3 linked regions of the Homo sapiens genome follow. The protein of the gene in region 2 purifies or fractionates together with the protein of the main gene of each other region. This does not show direct contact. Each region holds a gene or a part of one and is shown on either strand. Other genes may lie near its edges.

Region 1 (7,026 bases), on a different chromosome or scaffold from region 2:
CTGTCATTTCAAGTAATTTTTTGTCTTTTAGGAATTTTTCTTTATAGTGAAAGCTTAGTTTATGTGCACCTTTTAATGCCCCTAGCAACTGATGCTTATTTATATGAATCTAATGAAAATGATTTCATTTTAAAATGGCAGCATTTAACAAAAAATATGCTTAGGACTGTTGTTTTTCGTATAAGCCCTTAGAGTGTGGAGGTGGTTTCTGTCAGTTTCTCGCCAAGATCTTTCCACATTAGGAAGTGATTATTAATAATTCATGAATTATGGCTTAATTCATACTACATTATATACTTACTGAAGAAAGATTTTTTTGCTTTGCTTATACTGTAGGTGTTAGTGGATAATAGTGTTGACTAGCATCCCTAGTGTGAAAGAGTTGTCAAACTTGAAATATGTTTGTAAAAATAAACACGATTTCCGTTTAATCTTAGGCCTTTAGTAGCCATAATCAAGGTAGAGGAATAGCAGCCCTTATATTTGAAGAACTTCAGTTTTCCAGGCACTTTCTCATCATCTCATTTAATCCTGTCTCACAGCTGGAGGTGGGGGCAATTCATATACATAGAAAGTAGCTTCTAATTCCATTTAGCAGTACAGAATGCTTAAAAGAACCATAATTATTGCAGGATAGAAAAAACAAATTTTTTTTTTTTTTGAGACGGAGTCTCGCTCTGTCGCCAGGCTGGAGTGCAGTGGTGCGATCTTGGCTCACTGCAACCTCTGCCTCCCAGGTTCAAGAGATTCTGCCTCAGCCTCTTGAGTAGCTGTGACTACAGGCGCATGCCACCACACCCAGCTAATTTTTGTATTTTTAGTAGAGATGGGGTTTCACCATGTTGGCCAGGATGGTCTGGATCTCTTGACCACATGATTCGCCCGCCTCGGCCTCCCAAAGGGCTGGGATTACAGACGTGTGAGCCACTGTGCCTGGCCCACAATTTTTAATTTATAACTTCTTAATATAAAAATCATTTTTATCTGATCTTACAATCTTTAGTCTTAACCCCACCCCTTTTTTTGGATACAGGGTCTTGCTCTGTCTCTGGTGTGCAGTGGCAGGATCATGGCTCACTGCAGCCTTATCCTCCTCAGGCTCAAGAAATCCTCCCACATCAGTCTCCCAAGTAGCTGGGACTATAGGCATGTGCCACCACGCCTGGTTAATTAAAGAAACTTTTTATTTTTGGAGAGATGGGGGTCTCCCTATGTGGCCCAGGCTGGTCTTGAACTCCTGGGCTCAAGTAATCCTCTTGCCTCAGCCTCCCAGAGTGCTGGGATTACAGGTGTGAGCCAGCATGCCTGGCCCTTATCCTATTTTTTGATATGAATTCTTAATTTTCTTTATTCTTATTTACTATCGTTGGACATTTATATTTTGACATATTTCACTGAAATGTAATATTTATACTAATGGCTGTAATGTCTCCTTTTTTTTTTTTTTTTTTAAAATGAGGTGGGTCTTACTCTGTTGCCCAGGCTGGAGTGCAGTGGTGGAATCACATCTCACTGCAGCCTTGACTTCCCGGGTTCAGACAATCTTTCTGAGTACCTGGGACCACAGGCATCTGCTACCACGCACAGCTAATTTTTAATTTTTATACAGACAGGGTCTCCTTGTGTTGCTCGGGCAGGTCTCAAACTCCTGGGCTCAAGGATCCTCTCTACCAGCTGAGCCTCCTAAAGTGCTGGGATTATAGGTGTGAGTCACCATATCCTGTATGTCTCTGTTTTTTAATTCATATTTTCCCCAGTTAATTTACAGGGACATTTCATTTCAACCACTGCCTTATCTTTTCTAAAACAAAATCAAGATCAAGTTCTTACTAAGCATCCATTATCAACATATCTCTGGTCGATACAGCATGGTTATTTGTATGTTGTGAACTGGATCTAGAAATTGGAAATAAGTTTTTAAAAAGTAGGATTTGAATATTTTGCATATGTAGAATTTGTATTTGGGCTAGTGGTTTGTGTAACTACATTAAAAATGCGTATAACATACCAGACTGTACCTGAATTAATTCCCTTTTAAAGCACAAATGGTTTTTAATGTCTCAGTTAATAATATCTTATGGGTGCTTAGTTTGCGTATTGTCAAGAAGGATCTGGTAACTAGGATGTGATTTCTAAGAAGATGCATGTAAGGAAGAAATAAAGTAGAAGATCTGTCCCAGGATATCTTTTATTTAAAAGTAAGGTAACTGGGACTTTTTTTTTTTCCAAAAGGATCTTGTTTTAAGAAGACAGTTATTTTGTAATTAATGTCTGGGCTTCCTATTCTTTCCTGTAAGAATTAGTCATATGATTTATATTTTCATTTTTCATTATCCTTACTAGTCTTTTAGTAGTTTTGCAATACAGAAAATAGAAATAGAGTTATCAAAGTGGTAGTAATGAGTAAGATTTGATCACACATGTCAAATGCCTGAGGCATTTTATTTATTTTTATTTTTTCTGTCGCCATGGCAGAACAGAATGCCTGAGGTATATAATAAAATTCACAAATGTATCCTTTTTCCTCCCAGATATGTCTAGTTAAGTTTCTGAACAGTATGTGTTTTAAAAGAGGAACTCTAAAGAGAACTTAATATTCAACTATTTTTTGTAGCCGCTTATTCATAATTAGCAAATGAATTCTGAAATACTTTTGTAATTATTGTTCCCTGATGGATTTATTTGCTATGTTAAGAAATAGTATAAGACTTTGGGCATCTATATACCTTTTGTGTTTACTGAATATTTTATATATCTGGATAATTTTTAAAGGTGTCTTTGAATTTAAAGTTACTATGGCAGGTGAGAAGTGAAACACTTCATAAGATGTGATTGACATTTTTCTTTCATACGCTTTGTGAGACATTTATATGAAACATTTACTTTGATGTTTAAAAAACACTGATTGTTTAAAAATAATCTATTTTAATAATCAGAATTGCTTTCATTTAAAAATATTTGTTTATTTGGCCATGATAATCATTTAGAATAGTTAATGTGAAAGTTCACCGTAGACATAGTTGTTTCTCCTTTGTTTTCTTCAGCTCTGAAATGGTTAATTTCATGGTTTCTCACTTAAAATAAAGAAGTAAGAAAAATAAACTTACAGGCTTCTTGGCAAGAGGTTAGAGCCCTACCAGGAAGAAGTAGCCTTAGACTTTCAAAGTAAAGTCTTAGTATTTGCTCTTCCTGTTCTTTTGGTAGCTAAAGTGGCATTTCCGTTACTTTGTGTTCTGTCTTAGTATGTTCCCAGTTAAACTGCTTTATACGTTTCTCTAGAGAATCAAAATTTTGGACTTGACCTTTTAGTATTTTGTATGTTCACTGTGTATGTGAATCATTTTGGGCAGTTAGATAGTTCTTTAAAAGAGAATCTTGATGAACCTAAGCCTTTGTATTAAAAATTATGTTCAGAGTTGTGATTTGTTAGATTATCAGAAAATGAAGGATTTCTCAAGTTATATTATTATCAAGATATATTATATCCCCCACGAAAGTGGTACATTTGTTAAAATTGATGGACCTACATTCAGACATCTTTACCACCCAAAGTCCATGGTTTACATTAGGGTTTTTTTTTTTTTGAGACGGAGTTTCGCTCTTGTTGCCCAGGCTGGAGTGCAGTGGTGCGATCTCAGCTAACTGCAACCTTTGCCTCCTGGGTTCAAGGGATTCTCCTGCCTCAGCCTCCCAAATACCTGGGATTACAGGTGCCCACCACCACGCCCAGCTAAATTTTTGTATTTTTGATAGAGATGGGGCTTCACCATGTTGGCCAGGCTGGTCTCGAGCTCCTGACCTCAGGTGATCCACCCACCTCGGCCTCCCAAAGTGTTGGGATTACAGGCGTGAGCCACTGCGCCCGGCCAAGGTTTACTCTTGCTGTTTGTATGTTCTATGGGTTTGGCCAATTGTATGGCACATATCCACTGTTGTAGCGGTACAATGTTTATCTGCCCTGAAATACTCTGTGCTCCCCCTCGCCATCCCTTCTCTTCCCCAGCCACTGGCAACCACTATTTTTTGTTAACTGTCTCCATAGTTTTGCCTTTTCAAGATGTCATAGTTGGAATCATACAGTCTATAGCCTTTTCAGATTTTCTTTTTTCACGTACTAATATGCGTTTACGATTTCCTCAATGGCTTTTCACGGTTTGACAGCTTTTTTTTTTCTTTTGCACTTGACTATTCTATTATCTGGATATACCCGGGTTTATTTGTCCATTTACTTACTGAAGGACATCTTGGTTGCTCCCTAGTTTTGGCAATCGTGAATAAAGCTGCTATAAACATCAAACATCTGTGTGCGTGTCTTTTGTGTGGACATAAGTTTTCAGTTCGTTTGGGTAAATAGCAAGGAACACAGTTGCTGGATCATATGGTAAGAATACCTTTAGTTTTGCAAGAAACCTCTAAACTGTCTTTCAAAGTGATGGTACCATTTTATATTCCCACCAGTAATGAATGGGAGTTTCTGTTCACATTCTCACCAGCATTTGATATTGTCACTGTTAATGGGTTTTGGCCATTCTAATAGGTGTGTAGTGGTATTGTTTTAATTTGCATTTTCCTGATTATGTGACTTTTTTTCATATGCATACTCGCCATCTTTATATCTTCTTTAGTGAGGTGTCCGTTAAGGTCATTGTCCTGTTCTTAAAGTCAGGTTCTTTGTTTTCTTATTGTTGAGGTTTGAGAGTTGTTTATTTTGAATAACAGTCCTTTATCAAATGTGTCTTTTCTTTTCTTTTTTTTTTTTTTTTTTTTTTTTTGAGATGGAGTCTTGCTCTGTCTCCCGGGCTGGAGTGCAATGGGGCCATCTCATCTCACTGTAAGCTCTGTCTCCCAGGGGTTCAAGTGATTCTTCTGCCTCAGCCTCGCAAGTAGCTGGGATTACAGGTGTCTACCATCATGCCTGGCTAATTTTTGTATTTTTAGTAGAGATGGCGTTTGACCATATTAGCCAGGCTGGTCTTGAACTCCTCATCTCAGGTGATCCGCCTGCTTCAGCCTCCCAAAGTGTTGGGATTACAGGCATGAGCCACTGAGCCCGGCTATCAAATGTATCTTTTGCAAATATTTTCTCCCAGTCTGTGCCTTGTCTTTTTCATTCTCTTGACAATGCCTTTCACAGAGCAGAAAATTTTAATCTTAATGAAGTCCAGTTTAGCAGTTCTTTCTTTCATGGGTCATGCCTTCATCATTGTATTTAAAAAGTCATCAACAAACTCAAGGTCATCTAGATTGTCTTCTATGTCACCATTTGGGAGCTTTATAATTTTGCATTTTACATTTAGGTCTGTGATCCATTTTGAGTTAATTTTTGTGAGTGTAATGTCTGTCTCCTGATTCATTTTTTTTTTTTTTGCCTGTGGATATCTAGTTGTGCAGTACTATTTGTTGAAAAGATTATCTTTGCTGCATTGTATTGCCTTTCTCCTTTGCTGGCAGTGGTTCTTAAGGTGTGGTCTGGGGACTTTTGGGGGTCCTCAAGACCATTTCAGCAAGTTTGTGAGTTCAAAACTGTTTTCATATACTAAGACATTATTTGCCTTTTCTATTTTTATTCTTTCAAGAACCACTGTACAGTGGAGTTTTCTAGAGGCTGTGTGATGTGTGTGTGATATTGCCATAGGTTGAATGTAGTAGCAGATAATGATAATTCAACTATTTCCTATTAAACCACAAAATAGAGTTTTGCCAAAATGTGAAACAGTGCCACTCTTCTAAATTGTGGGGTTTTTTGAAAATACTGTTATTTTTCAAATGAATTAATGTTGATAAATTTATCAGTTTCAGTTTCTAACAGTAAATATTGGTAGAGAACCCCCACATGAAAGCTCTTGGCTCCTCAATTTTAAAAGTGTGAAGGTTCTGAGACTAAAAAAATGCACCTTTAGGGATGAGTGTGTATTAGAAGGGACAAAAGAGTACTCAAAGAGGAACTAGATCTAAGGGATCCTTTGAATTCTCAAAGTAATTTTGGATTTGATTTTGTAGGTAACAGTGCCTCAACTTTTGGAAGATTTCAAGCAAGAGATGTGGTATCATAATCCCTATGTCCACTTTATGTCCATAAATAGATTGGAAGGAGTGTTCAGTATGACTTGGAAAGGAAACTGCTGGGGCAAAAAAGTCTTAACAATAATATTTAAATTTTTTTCCCAAAGGCCTTAAAAATTAGTTATTAATTGGAACTCTTGATTATTTGTCCTCTCTCTTTTTTTTTTTTATGTCAAAACTATCCTTTTTTGTGAAAGTTAGGCAGGTTAGGTATCAATTGTGCCAAAAGTTCTTGACTACCAAACCGTTAGCCTTTGCACATATGATTCCTTGGACTAAAGACAGGGTCTGGCTCTGTCACCCAAGCTGGAGTGTAGTGTCATGATCATGGCTTACTGTAACTCTGAACTCTTGGGCTCAAGGGATTCTCTTGCCTCAGCCTCCTGAGTAGGTAGGACTACAGGTGTGTGCCACCATGCCCTGCTAAAGAGAAAGGGGTCTCTTTCCTAGGCTGGTCTCGAACTTCTGGCCTTGGCCTCCCAAAGTGCTGGGATTATAAGTGTGAGCCACCATGCTCGGCCTCTTTTAAACTGTCTTTACCTTGCTCCCATTAATATTCACATTTAAGGTAACCGCTTTCATAAAAACATCACTGAATAACTCCCCCTGGTCCTGTCAGTCCAGCATTATTCTCACCATTTATAGAGTTTCAAATATTGTTAAACTGTAGTGGCTATCTTGCTTTTATGTATTTTGGGTTTATGCACATTTCCTCCACAGAATAGGAATTGTTTTCGGTATTGTTCTCTATCTCTTCTCCAAGTACCTAGTCAGCAACCCCCCATGGGTGCTCAGTAAATATTGAATGATTATACTTAACCTCCCTTCATAGCTCAGACTATTCCATGAACAATTTATGGACATAAAAATCTATGCCAGTAGACATTTAAGGATATTTTTTATGGTGACTATGGAAATTGCCTGGTTACAAATTTATATATAGAGTCAGTAACATTGATAAAA
Region 2 (6,893 bases):
AAAGGCAAAATGAGGAAGGCTACGTAAGTTGTTTTGAAAAAATTATCCTTGGCTACAAGGATTGATAACAAGGGTAGCATTATTCCAAGATTGAACAGGCAATTGCTGGGCAGGTGTCATTGCAGAAATATTCTTCGTGCATGGGTGTGACGGCCTTTGTGCAAGATTGTGGTTTCAGACAATCCTTGTTTTTTGTTGTTGTTGTTGTTGGGTTTTTTTTTTTTTCTTGAGACGGAGTTTTGCTCTTGTTGCCCAGGCTGGAGTACAATGGGGCAATCTCGGCTCACTGCAACCTCTGCCTCCCAGGTTCAAGCAATTCTTCTGCCTTAGCCTCCTGAGTAGCTGGGATTACAGGTGTGTGCCACCACACCCAGCTAATTTTGTATTTTTAGTAGAGACGGGGTTTCATCATGTTAGGTTGGTCTTGAACTCCAGACCTCAGGTGATCCGCCCATCTCAGCATCCCAAAGTGTTGGGATTACAGGCATGAGCCACCGTGCCCAGCCTCAGACAGTCCTTGTAATATTTTCTATCATAGGCATGTGTGCATGGGAGCCCCTCATTTATGGCCTCCTGAGTCCATTTTGCTAGGGTTTGGCATAAGTGACTCCAGTTTGATTTGGACAACTTGTGCAGAAGGATGCCCACTTTTGGTATTTCTATTCAACATAGTACTGGAAGTCCTAGCCAGAGAAATTAGGCAAGAAAAAGAAATAAAAGCAACCCAGATTGGAAAGTAAGAAGTATCTCTGTTTGCAGATGCTATTTATTTATTTAGAGACAGGGTCTCACTCTCATTGCCCAGGCTGGAGCGCAGTGGTGTGATTGTTATAGGACAGGGGTCCCAATCCAGACCCCAAGAGAGGGTTCTTGGATCTCACGCAAGAAAGAATTCAGGGTGAGTCCTTGGTGCAAAGCGAAAACAAGTTTATTAAGAAAGTAAAGGAGGGGCCGGGCACGGTGGCTCACGCCTGTAATCCCAGCACTTTGGCAGGCCGAGGTGGACAGATCATGAAGTCAAGAGATCGAGACCATCCTGGCTAACAGGGTGAAACCCCGTCTCTACTAAAAATACAAAAAAAAAAAAAATTAGCTGAGCATGGTGGCAGGCTCCTGTAGTCCCAGCTACTTGGGAGGCTGAGGCAGGAGAATGGCGTGAACCCGGGAGGTGGAGCTTGCAGTGAGCCGAGATCGCACCACTGCACTCCAGCCTGGGCAACAGAGCGAGACTCCACCTCAAAAAAAGAAAAAGAAAGTAAAGGAATAGAAGAATGGCTACTCCATAGACAGAGCAGCCCCAAGGACTGCTGGTTGCATATTTTCATGGCCATTTCTTGATGAAATGCTAAACAAGGGGTGGATTATTCGTGCCTTCCCTTTTTAGACCGTATAGGGTAACTTCCTGATGTTGCCATGGCATTTGTAAACTGTCCTGGCACTGGTGGGAGTGAGGATGACCAGAGGTCACTCTTGTCACCATTTTGGTTTTGGTGGGTTTTGGCTGGCTCCTTTACTGCAACCTGGTTTTTGTTGTTGTTGTTTGTTGGTTTGTTTGTTTTTTGAGACTGAGTCTTGCACTGTCACCCAGGCTGGAGTGCAGTGGTGAGATCTCGGCTCACTGTAACCTCCGCCTCCCGGGTTCAAGCAATTCTCCTGCCTCAGCCTCCCAAGTAGCTGGGATTACAGGCACCTGCCACCATGCCCAGCTAATTTTTTGTATTTTTAGTAGAGACGGGGTTTCACTATATTGACCAGGCTGGTCGCAAACTCCTGACCTCACAATCCGCCCACCTTGGCCTCCCAAAGTGCTGGGATTACAGGCGTGGGCCACCTTGCCCAACACTGCAAACTGTGTTATCAGCAAGGTCTTTATGACTTGTATTTTGTGCTGACCTCCTATCTCATCCTGTGATTTAGAATGCCCTAACCGTCTGGGAATGCAGCCCAGTAGGTTTCAGCCTCATTTTACCCAGATCCTGTTTACGACGGACTTGCTCTGATTCACACACCTCTGACACAATCATAGCTCACTGCAACCTTGACTTCCCGGGCTCAGGTGATTCCCTCACCTCGGCCTCCTGAGTAACTGGGACTACGGGCACCATACCACCATGTCTGGCTAATTTTTTGTAGTTTTAGTAGTGATGGGGTTTTGCCACGTTGTCCAGACTGGTCTCAAACTCCTGGGCTCAATCTATCCACCCACTTCCACCTCCCAAAGTGCTGGGATTACAGGTATGAGCCATGGCACCTGGCTAATAAGCTCTTATCTGCAGAAAACCCTAAATATTCCACACACAAAAAATGTTAGAGCTAATAAATGAATTCAGCAAAGCAGCAGGATACAAAGCCAATGCACAAAAATCAGTTAAATTTCTATGCATTAACAATACGCAATCAAAAAAGAAGATAAAACTTCCACTTACAATAACATCAAAAAGGCCAGGTGTGTTGGCTCATGCCTGTAATCCCAGCTCTTTGGAAGTCTGAGGATGAGAGGATCACTTGAGCCCAGGAGTTGAAGCTGTAGTGAACTATAATCGTACCACTACACTCTAGCCTGGGCAAGAGTAAGATCCTGTCTCAAAACAAAAAACAAACAAACAACAACAACAAAACCATGCAAATGGACAGCAATAAATAAATACATTAATTTAATTAAATAAAACAATAAAAACCCCCCCAAAAACAGTAACATCAAAAGGTGCTCAAGTTGTTACCAATTAAACTGAAAGTTCCAGCTGGGCTTGGTAGCTCACACATGTAATCCCAGTGTTTTGGGAGACCAAGGCAGGAGGATCCCCTGAGGCCAGCAGTTCAAGACCAGCCCAGTTAATATAGCGAGGCCCTGTCTCTAAATAAAAAAATTAAAAAGAAAAAAAAAAAAACACCTGGAAGGTCCCTTCACCCCAACTCCACTTCCACCCCCAACTTGGCGGCACATCTTTCCTTTCGCTCTTCCAGTCCATATTTCATAGTTGCCTTTCAAGTCCCACATTAGAAATAGCAGACAGCCCAAATCCCATGGTGTTTCTTTGCATCGTCTCCCTATACCCCGTGTTTAAATGTCACAGCGCCTCACACACAGTGCTTTGACAGGCCATTTGCCATCTGTTGGTCTCACCGGATTGTAATCTCCGCATGGCCATGGCTGGATTTTATAAAACGTTGCTGTCCTGGTGCTTGGCAAAGCGCAGGCAGGGAGGAGGCATTCAGAGCCTGTTCACAGAGGGCAGCGGGCAGCGTGGAGAGTGGTAGGCTGCCTGGGTAAACCAGGTCTGCCTTTCTCAGGCTGGTTCATACCTAAAGGACATTTAAGGGGCCTAGCTGGCCATCCAAACTCTGGTCGTATGAACTGAAGCCTCCTCAAGGGAGATACACAAAAAAATACACAAAACAACACGGCCTAGTGGGAAAGGACCTGGACTTGCATGAAAAGGTGCGGGGCAGCCTTTCCCAGCCTCAATTTTCCTCTTCTTACAGAGGCGGAGGCTCATAGAATGAGGTGCATGACATCCCAACCTAGGAGAAGAAACTTCTGCAGAATGAATCAGGAGCCAGGTCTGCGCTCCCGAGGCCAGAGGTGGCCTCCTGTCGCAGCTCTGTGCACGGTACGGCCACTCTGTGCCCTGCGTTTCGCCTCCAGGCCGGGCGGGAGCAGTGCCTAGCCCAGGTGTCCTCGACGCGAGCAGCTGGGCGCCGCTGCGGAGGGAGGGAAGCGCCGCGCCGGTCCCGGGCCCAGCGCTGCGCCCAGTCCTGAGGCGCCCTCCTGCGGCCGCTGCTCGGCGACCTCCCGGCCCTGCGGCCCCGCCCCCGCGGTGACGTCACCGCATTCCGGCTCCGCTCCTCCCGCCGCGGCGCCCGCACCGCAGTGACAGCCAGCCGGGCCCGGTGGCGGAGAGGAAGTGCGGTCCGCGCCAAGCCCGTCCCCGCCGACGCCGGCTCCCCCGCGGCTCGGGTGACAGCGTCGCGGCCGCCGGACGCAGCGCGGGGCAGGCGCGGGCAGAGCCGAGCGCAGCGGAGGCTCCGGCGGAGGCGCGGGGAAAATGGCTGATGACTTTGGCTTCTTCTCGTCGTCGGAGAGCGGTGCCCCGGAGGCGGCGGAGGAGGACCCGGCGGCCGCCTTCCTGGCCCAGCAGGAGAGCGAGATTGCAGGCATAGAGAACGACGAGGGCTTCGGGGCACCTGCCGGCAGCCATGCGGCCCCCGCGCAGCCGGGCCCCACGAGTGGGGGTGAGTCAGCGCGGGGCCTGGAGAGGGGCTCAGGGCGCGCACCCGGGGGACCCCGGCCGGGGCCCAGGGGCACAGGGAAGAGAGCCTGCTCTAGGCCACCCGGGGCAGGAGCTGGGAGACGTGGGGAAGAATCTTCTTGGAGATCTCCATGTAGGACTTCCGAGCTGGGGATGAGGCCTCGCCTGGGGCTGTGGATCTGGTGACTCCCGGGACAGGAATTCGGTCATGACATTTCATCCCCAGGCCAGCTTCCCCACTGCCCGGCTCTGGAATCCAACCCCACCTCAGTTTTGAGAGTCCCTCCTGAGCCTCCTAATAGCCTGGGTGTCCCAGGCTCCCAGCTAAGTGTGCAGGTGTGGGCAGAACACAGCCCTCCTGGCCCCTCAGGCTTAGCTCTCTCCTGCAGCTGGGAAAAAAGAGGATCCTGGGTGCTCCAGGAACTCACTAACCTTCCCCGGTGACCGCCTGGCATTCGGCAGTCGCTGGGCTAAGCGCCTTGGTTACATTTAATCACTTCATACACGTGATTGAACCCATTTCAGAGATGGTAAAACTGAGGCTCAAGGGAGTATGCTATTGAAATAACTAGTAAGTGGCAGATCAAGAATTTAAACCTGTTTCTTTTTCTTTTACATATATATTTTTTCTTTTCCTTTTTTTGAGATGGGGTCTCGCTATGTTGCCCAGACTGGTCTTGAGCTCCTGGGCTCAAGCAATCCTCCCACCTCTGCCTCCTAAAGTGTTGGGATTACAGGTGTGAGTCACCACACCTGGCCGTGAATTTAAACCTGTTCCTGTCGGACTTGAAGCCCTCTCCACCTGACCACACTGCCTACCAAGTGTCTGGCTCTGAGTTAGACACCGGAGTGTGGGCCACAAAGAGGCATCAGTCAGATGCGGTAGGGCCCTTCAGGGTTTTGTAGTTGTCGACTTAATGGTTTTCCAAAGGTGGTCCGGGGCTATTATGATTTACTGTGATTGGCTTCAGACCTCAGTGTTCAGGGCCTAGTCCCTGTGAAATCATCTTTATCAATGATGTTTCTGCCCTGGTTCTGGCTAGCAAGAATGATTTTGTAAAATATTTAGTAAAAAAGTAGATATCACCTTCATGGGTACATCCAAAACAGGTTTTACTTCCTGTTGATGTCATTTTGGAAAGGTTTATGGGCCTGTTGTAGTAAGTGCTAACATATATACATATAGACATATTTTGGTTAATGATGTTTACAAGGCTCTTCACAGTCATGTTTGTATCCATTCAACGTTTACTGAGCACCTACTGTGTGTCAGGACGCTGGGGATACAGAAATGAATAAGACAGTTCCTGTGGCTGAGGAGTTTGAAGCAACTCTGTATCTCCTTGATATGAGAAATGTAACCAGGCTTTTGTAACATGCAAGAAACCGGTGGCCCAGAGAATCTGAGTATCTTGCCCAGAGTCACACAGCCAGGAATGACCAATCTAGGACTTGATCCCACGCCTCCCAACTCTGGGCTCCATGCTCTTTCAAATGCTGTGGAGCCTGGGCAACATGGTGAAACCCCATCTCTACAAAACATACAAAAATTAGCCAGGCATGGTGGCATGTAGCTGTAGTTGTAGTTCCAGCTGCTCGGGAAGGCTGAGGCAGGAGCATAGCTTGAGCCCGGGAGGTGTAGGTAGGTCGCCGTGTGCTGTGATCACGTCTCTGTACTCCAGCCTGGGCAGCAGAGTGAGACCCTGTCTCAAAAAAAAAAAAAAAAAGATTCTATAGCAGTCACCTCCCTGGCAGGAGATAGGATGTGGGGTGAGAAGCATGGGGTCTTTTGCCACCTATCTGAGACAGCAATGGAGGGCTTCTGAAGTGGAAGCTTCCAGCACCTCAATACAGAATCTGCCGTGTCCCAGGGAATTCCTAAGAAATGCCTGCCCCAGTTAATGCACCAGTATTCACTGGACCACACCTCTGTGAGACCACCCTTTTCCTCAGTCTGGCTCACTGGGGCCTGTTGGGGTCGGGGTGCAGGGAAGAGGAGGGAGGCCTTGTGGGGAGGTCCTGCTGAGGGGAGCCATTGTGAGAACCTCAGGAGAGAAAAGATGGGATTCAGGCTGAGGGCAGCCAGATGCCTGAGGGAGCTGAGCAGGTTGTGGCCTCTCCCAGGATGGTGGGGCTCCAGGGACTTACAGTCTGGATGGCAAGTTCTGTCCTTGGCAGGGGTGGGGCACAAATTGGCCTCAGACCAGAGGTGACAGGGAGAGAAACAATGACACGCTCGCTTCTTCCAGGGAGGTGCCGGGGATACAGCCTTCTGAGGGTCTCCCAGGCGCATACCTGCTGACTCTGCAAAGGCTCAGCTGCCCTCCTTAGTTGGATCGGGGAGCAGGGAGGTGTTGAGGGATGGCGGCTCAGTGGATGGCCAGATGGGCTAGAATTGATCTGACCTTCTCAGCCTATGCAGTGCTGAACAGGTAATCTTCCCCTGACCAGGGATGTGTGCCAGGAGCCTGGATGGGGCAGAGAAAAAGCGCCCTGGCCTGCTGAGAGCTGGGCAAAAGCTGGCTTAGCAGCGGCCGCCAGTCAGTACCTCTGAGGCACCTTCTCTTAGATGTTGGGGTCCTCAGATTAGCAATCTCTGTGCTGACACTGGGCTCAGTTGCCCCTGGGGAAAGAGGTATCTGG
Region 3 (7,026 bases), on a different chromosome or scaffold from region 2:
TCTGAACATCTTCTGTAACCCAACAGTGTATAAGGTGTTAAGTGTTCCTTCACCCAGATTTTATCTGTTTTATTTTGTTTATTTTGTAGTATATTTTTCTAAGTGGCTTAAAGTCCAAAGTCATATGGGGTAGGTTGCAAACAAAATATATTTATGTTTAGAAATCTAATTGAGTGTTATGTTTATTTTTATGTATAGGCCTTGCTATTTTGGAAGCTACAAGAAAAAAATAGAGGAAGGAAGGTTTGGTCTTTTTAGTGGACATGGCTCAGATATCTAGCAACAGCGGATTTAAAGAATGTCCATCTTCACATCCGGAACCAACAAGAGCAAAAGATGTGGACAAAGAAGAAGCATTACAGATGGAAGCAGAGGCTTTAGCAAAACTGCAAAAGGATAGACAAGTGACTGACAATCAGAGAGGCTTTGAGTTGTCAAGCAGCACCAGAAAAAAAGCACAGGTTTATAACAAGCAGGATTATGATCTCATGGTGTTTCCTGAATCAGATTCCCAAAAAAGAGCATTAGATATTGATGTAGAAAAGCTCACCCAAGCTGAACTTGAGAAACTATTGCTGGATGACAGTTTCGAGACTAAAAAAACACCTGTATTACCAGTTACTCCTATTCTGAGCCCTTCCTTTTCAGCACAGCTCTATTTTAGACCTACTATTCAGAGAGGACAGTGGCCACCTGGATTACCTGGGCCTTCCACTTATGCTTTACCTTCTATTTATCCTTCTACTTACAGTAAACAGGCTGCATTCCAAAATGGCTTCAATCCAAGAATGCCCACTTTTCCATCTACAGAACCTATATATTTAAGTCTTCCGGGACAATCTCCATATTTCTCATATCCTTTGACACCTGCCACACCCTTTCATCCACAAGGAAGCTTACCTATCTATCGTCCAGTAGTCAGTACTGACATGGCAAAACTATTTGACAAAATAGCTAGTACATCAGAATTTTTAAAAAATGGGAAAGCAAGGACTGATTTGGAGATAACAGATTCAAAAGTCAGCAATCTACAGGTATCTCCAAAGTCTGAGGATATCAGTAAATTTGACTGGTTAGACTTGGATCCTCTAAGTAAGCCTAAGGTGGATAATGTGGAGGTATTAGACCATGAGGAAGAGAAAAATGTTTCAAGTTTGCTAGCAAAGGATCCTTGGGATGCTGTTCTTCTTGAAGAGAGATCGACAGCAAATTGTCATCTTGAAAGAAAGGTGAATGGAAAATCCCTTTCTGTGGCAACTGTTACAAGAAGCCAGTCTTTAAATATTCGAACAACTCAGCTTGCAAAAGCCCAGGGCCATATATCTCAGGTATAGTCTTTTCTTACTAACTTCTCAAACTTAGTATAACACAGAGTTCATATTTGTGTACATAATTTGTGTTTTTTTGTTTTTGTTTTTGTTTTTAAGAAGGAGTCTCGCTCTGTCGCCCAGGCTGGAGTGCAGTGGCGTGATTTCGGCTCACTGCAAGCTCCGCCTCCCAGGTTCACACCCTTCTCCTGCCTCAGCCTCCCGAGTGGCTGGGACTACAGGCACCCGCCACCACACCCGGCTAATTTTGTGTATTTTTAATAGAGACGGGGTTTCACTGTGTTAGCAAGAATGGTCTCGATCTCCTGACCTCGTGATCCACCCGTCTCAGCCTCCCAAAGTGCTGAGATTACAGGCGTGAGCCACTGCGCCCAGCCCATAATTTGTTAAGAAAAAAAAATATTTTTCACTTTGAATTTTGTTTTTCTTTGCTCTCAAGTGTGCTTTGATTCTTTGCTTGTGTGGCAAAGGATGAAATGTGATTAGGCCAATTGAAAAATTGCTTGCTATTAATATTTTTCTAGGATTGTAAATAAAAAGCCTCTAATGAAGGAACTGGCTGTCACTGAGAGGCATTTAAGATATTTTAAATTTGTCTGTCCATGTCTCCTCATTACATATGCTCCCTTCTTTCTCTTCCTTATTCCTGTTTTTTTTTAAATGCAAATAAGAAATTTTGGTTTTTAGCCCCATTATAGAAATTCTCACGCATTTTGTTTTGTTGTTTTTAACCATGAATCAATGAATAAATAACCCCAGAGAGAAGAGCAATTTAAAGGACTCTCCCTTTAAACACTTTTGTCGATAAAAGTGAAGAATGAAATATTACCATTGCAGATTTGTGTTTTGCTTTTATATCTGTGTATCCTGGGAATGTTTAAGCCTCATTCTCACTTTAACGTGAATTAATATTCAGCTAATTAGATCAGCACTTACCTACTATTTTATCATTGGGAGTTAACTAGCATTTAGATGGGGAAGGGAGGGATGGATTTTGCATGATTTGGATCGGTTTATGTTGAATTGTTGACTTTATTTATTACTATTATTATTTTGAGATGAAGTTTTGCTCTTGTTGCCCAGGGTGGAGTGCAGTGGTGCAGTCTTGGCTCACTGCAACCTCCACCTCCCAGGTTCAAGCGATTCTCCTGCCTCAGCTTCCTAAGTAGCTGGGATTACAGGCATGTGCCACTACACTGGCTGGTTTTGTATTTTTAGTAGAAACCGGGTTTCTCCATGTTAGTCAGGCTGGTCTCGAACTCCCGACCTCAGGTGATCAGCCCACCTTGGCCTCCCAGTATGCTGGGATTACAGGCGTGAGCCACCATGCCCGGCCAAATTGTTGACTTAAAAAAAAAACATTTTGGATGTCTGGAAGGAAGAGAAATCGGTGTTAAGAAGGTTTAGACAGCATGATGGCTCATGTTTATAATCCCAGCACTTTGGAAGACTACGGTGGGAGAATCACTTGAGCCCAGGAGTTTGAGACCAGCCTGGGCAACATAATGAGAACCTGTCTCTAACACAATTACAAAAAAATTAGCTGGGCGTGATGGCATACTCCTGTGGTCCCAGCTACTTGGGAGGCTGAGGTGGGAGGATCGTGTGAGACCAGGAGGTTGAGACTGCTGTGACCCATGATTGTACCACTGTACTCCAGCCTGGGCGACAGAGCAAGACTCTATCTCAAAAAAAAAGGGGCAGTTGGGGGGAAGGCACTGGTCCCCCTAATTTTCCCATCCTGCAGGGCCCAGGTCACTGCTGGATTCATATTCGGGTCAATTTCTAATAGGCAGATGACTCCCCAGCTGTGGGTCTCTATTTTATAGGTTTCTCATGAGAGAAATGAATTCTGTGTTTAGTGCCTGGAGTCAGGATTTGAGATGTAGTCTGGATTTAAGATGTCAGCTGTTTATAGTTGTTTGGGAAGGGCAACTGCCTTGAACCTGGAGACAGACATTGGGGCTCTGATAAGTTAGTCTTGCTATCAAAGAAAAGGAAGCCCCTTGTCTTGTAGGGAGCTGCGCTTAGGCTCAAGCCTTGCACTGGTAGAAGGCAGAGCCCCACAATGAATGCATTGTAGCTACAATAGATTGTCTTGAAGTTAATACAGATGTTTATAAATTACCTTGATTAATTTAATTATATCTTAAATTCTGAACTTCCCATTATTGAAAAGTCATTTACCTACTGAGAGAAATAGATTATCCCAGCTAAGCTGATATTACCATTCCAGATGCAATGTAGTCATCATCTTAAGCAAGTTGAGGTTTCTGGGTAGGTGGGTTATTTACTGTCCAAAGCTCCAAGACTGGGATTCGGAACCCAAGAACTTACATGCTTTTTATCTATGTTGTACATACTCAAACCGAACTCTTTATTTATTATTATTTTTACCAATATGTTGCCAAAGCCAAAGGACTCTTCTGCATTTTTTTTTTAATCACTGAGACAGAAAGCTCACAAGAATCCTATGAGGCCAGAGTATGACCCATCCCTATTTTACAGTTGAGGAAACTGAGATGTAAAGAAGTTAAAAGGAATTACTGTTAATATTTTGGTGTAATAATGGTATTGCAATTAATTAAATGAATCTTATATTTAGAGATGTATACTGTAGAATTTAAAATGTAGTAAAATCAAGTGAGGTATTGGGGTTTGGAGGGCTTATAGATGAAACAAGATTGGCTATATGTTGATAATTGTTGAAGCCGATGATGGATACCTGGGTGTTTATTCTATTATTTACTTTGTGTATATTTGAAAATTTTCATGATAACAAGTTGGAGGTCAAGGAGAGGGCTGCAGAACTCTTTGCAAGCAGCAAAGTTCTGACATTCAAACCCATCTGACTCTAAAAGCCCTCCCTTTTTTTTTTTTTTTTTTTTTTTTTTCACTTTTTTGAGACAGTTTCTCTCTTGTTGCCCAGGCTGGAGTGCAATTGCGTGATCTCAGCTCACCGCAACCTCTGCCTGCTGGGTTCAAGCGATTCTATTGCCTCAGCCTCCCGAGTAGCTGGGATTACAGTCATGCACCACCACGACCGGCTAATTTTGTATTTTTAGTAGAGACGCGGTTTCTCCATGTTGGTCAGATTGGTCTCAAACTCCCGACCTCAGGTGATCTGCCTGCCTCAGCCTTCCAACGTGCTGGGATTACAGGCGTGAGCCACCAAGGTCTGCCAGCCCTCCCTTTTTCAAACTCCAGTGATACAACATGCTATTTTGGAAGGAGTAAGTTCCCTGTCATAGGAGATATTCAAATATGGTTCAAATGGCTTCCCAAATTTAGTTATATGTCACAGTATCCTAGAGAGTTTAGGCCTACTCAGTCCTGATTTGGAGGAAGGGGTGTCAAAGGACAGTATGGAATTTCAGGGGGAAGATAACCAGTTTTTTCAAAACTTTCCCCCTTGGACCTCCATTTGGGACCTCTTGACTAGGTTATTTTAAAGTTTATTCATACTCAGGAGCCTATAAAGTTGGGAAAATGACAAGACAAATAGCAAATGTGAAAATAGAGTACCCTGGGAACAGTTTCTTTTCAGCTCAAAACCCAAAGCACAGGTTGTTAATGCTTTCATTGCGAAACTCAACTTCCTGCCCCTGCTTGACCTTTTTAGTTTAGATTGGTCACTCCTAGTTCAACACATGTGTTCTCCACCCTTTCCTTTGGTGGGGCAGGGGTGTGACACCCATGTAAGTCTCCCTACATTTATTTTTTCTTATGTATTTAAAATATTTGTCACAGTACCATCTTGATATTTTCCTTATTTGGGGTGCTTTCAGAAAGTATCTTGGAGGAATAATGAGGATGGGTGGTTTCCTAAAGATAGGAAGAAGTTTGCCTAGCAAGATCTGGGTAATCAAGTCACATAGGTGTTACAGAGAGCTGCTAGTTGCTCAAACTCTAGGAATTAATTAACTAGGCTGCCAAACAGGATTAGTTTTAGCAGAAACAAGTTCCTAGATCTTAGTTAAAAAATATAGGGGAAGGATTAAAGTAGTAAGCAAATGGATTATGAGAGATATGAGTCAGAAACTGGGTAAGCAATAATATGACTTGATCAGGGGATCAATCAGAGAGTGGAGCTAGATTACTACAGTGTAGCATATCAACAGCTTTACTGATAGCATGCTATCTGAACTGACATGGCTTAGGCTACTTGCCAGTCTTAAGGCAGTCTAACTGCAGCATGGCTGAGGAAGTGTTCATCATTCCATTATACTCTAATCAAACCCCATCTAATAATTTTGTTTGAGTATATCCTAAGAGGGGCCACCAGTAAGGAAACTGAAGTTTGTCTTTTTTTTTTTTTTTTTTAAGACAGGGTCTCACACTGTTTTACCTAGGGTGGAGTGCAGCAGTGCGATCACGGCTCACTGTAGCCTCTACCTCCCATACTCAAGTGATTCTTCTAATGCAGCCTCCTGAGTGGCTGGGACTATAGGTACACGCCACCACACCCAGCTAATTTTTTTGGGTTTTGTGAAGATGAGGTCTCCCTGTGGTGTAAGCCATTGTGCCCAGCCTAGAGTATGTCTTGAAAAGAGAAGACTGTAGTTTTCAGGATCTAGAACGTATGCCATTTGAGGAACTGTTGGAGGCATTTTGTCTGAAGAAGAGAATATTAATTGGAGTTAAATCACTGAATCTGAGTTTCTTTATCTATGAAATAAAGTTGGCTAGACTAGATCCTTTCATAAATAATAGTTAAAATTTGGGAAGTTGCCATGTGGAAGAGGAAGTGGACTTTTTTTTTTTTTTTAAGGTTTTGTATTTTGGACATACATTTTCAAACCAATTCAGGAAGTAGAATACCTGAAAGTCATGGTGCTCTTATAAAACAGGATGAAATGTTGATATACTAATTTTTTCAGTACGTTAAATATATTAAGTATACTACTTTGTGTTACATTAGATGACAATCTGTGCTAGATTATAATAGAAACAACTGGTAGAATGGTGGGTTTGGTGGCTCATGCCTGTAAACCCAGTGCTTTGGGAGGCCGAGGTGGGAGGATTGCTTGAGGCCAAGAATTCGAGACCAATCTGGGGAATGTAGGGAGACCCGTGTCTATAGAAAAAAAAAATAGCTGTGTGTGGTGATGCACGCTGGGACTACAGCTATTCTGTAGTCCCAGCTACTCAAGAAGCTGCAGTAGGAGGATCTCAAGCCCAGGAGTTTGAGGCTGCAATGAGCTATGATGATAAGGCCCTTGTACTCCAGCCAAGGCTACAGAATGAGACCCTGTGTCTAAAAAACAAAGGAATAACTGATAGTAAGGGCTGAAAGTTAAAATACATTGCATAGAAAAACTTAAAATTAAACAAGTCCTATTTGTTTGTTTGTTTTTGTTTGTTTTTTTGAAACAGGGTCTCGCTCTGTCACCCAGGCTCTGGAGTGCAGTGGCGTGATCTCGGCACACTGCAACCTCCACCTCCCAGGTTCAAGTGATTCTCCTGGCTCAGCTTCCCGAGTAGCTGGGACTACAGGTGCATGCCACCATGCCCTGCTAATTTTTGTATTTTTAGTAGAGTTGGGGTTACACCATGTTGACTAGGCTGGTCTCGAGCTCCTGACCTCAAGTGATCCACCCGCCTCAGTCCCCCCAAGTGCTGGGATTATAGGCGTGGCCACCGTGCCTGGCCAAACAAGTCCTATTTGTTTATATATTTTTTTCTGTGAATTGAGAAT

What was found. Proteins that work in one complex are often made in the same cells at the same time.
Region 1: the proteins of CLTB (region 2) and PICALM purify together in Homo sapiens (affinity purification with mass spectrometry; 2 studies listed by BioGRID and IntAct, with this or other methods). This does not show direct contact.
Region 3: the proteins of CLTB (region 2) and PIK3C2A purify together in Homo sapiens (affinity purification with mass spectrometry; 2 studies listed by BioGRID and IntAct, with this or other methods). This does not show direct contact.

The regions. Positions count from the first base shown.
Region 1 is NC_000011.10:86,059,077-86,066,102, reverse strand, and holds part of PICALM (phosphatidylinositol-binding clathrin assembly protein), read left to right. Parts: intron 1-2,226; exon of another isoform or gene 2,227-7,026. UniProt on the Homo sapiens protein: Cytoplasmic adapter protein that plays a critical role in clathrin-mediated endocytosis which is important in processes such as internalization of cell receptors, synaptic transmission or removal of apoptotic cells.
Region 2 is NC_000005.10:176,413,517-176,420,409, reverse strand, and holds the start of CLTB (clathrin light chain B), read left to right. Parts: upstream 1-3,870; 5' UTR 3,871-4,046; coding exon 4,047-4,233; intron 4,234-5,346; exon of another isoform or gene 5,347-5,672; coding exon of another isoform or gene 5,673-5,957; intron 5,958-6,893. Other genes in the region: ARL10 (ADP-ribosylation factor-like protein 10), read right to left, coding at 5,673-5,957. UniProt on the Homo sapiens protein: Clathrin is the major protein of the polyhedral coat of coated pits and vesicles.
Region 3 is NC_000011.10:17,162,979-17,170,004, reverse strand, and holds part of PIK3C2A (phosphatidylinositol 4-phosphate 3-kinase C2 domain-containing subunit alpha), read left to right. Parts: intron 1-198; 5' UTR 199-263; coding exon 264-1,328; intron 1,329-7,026.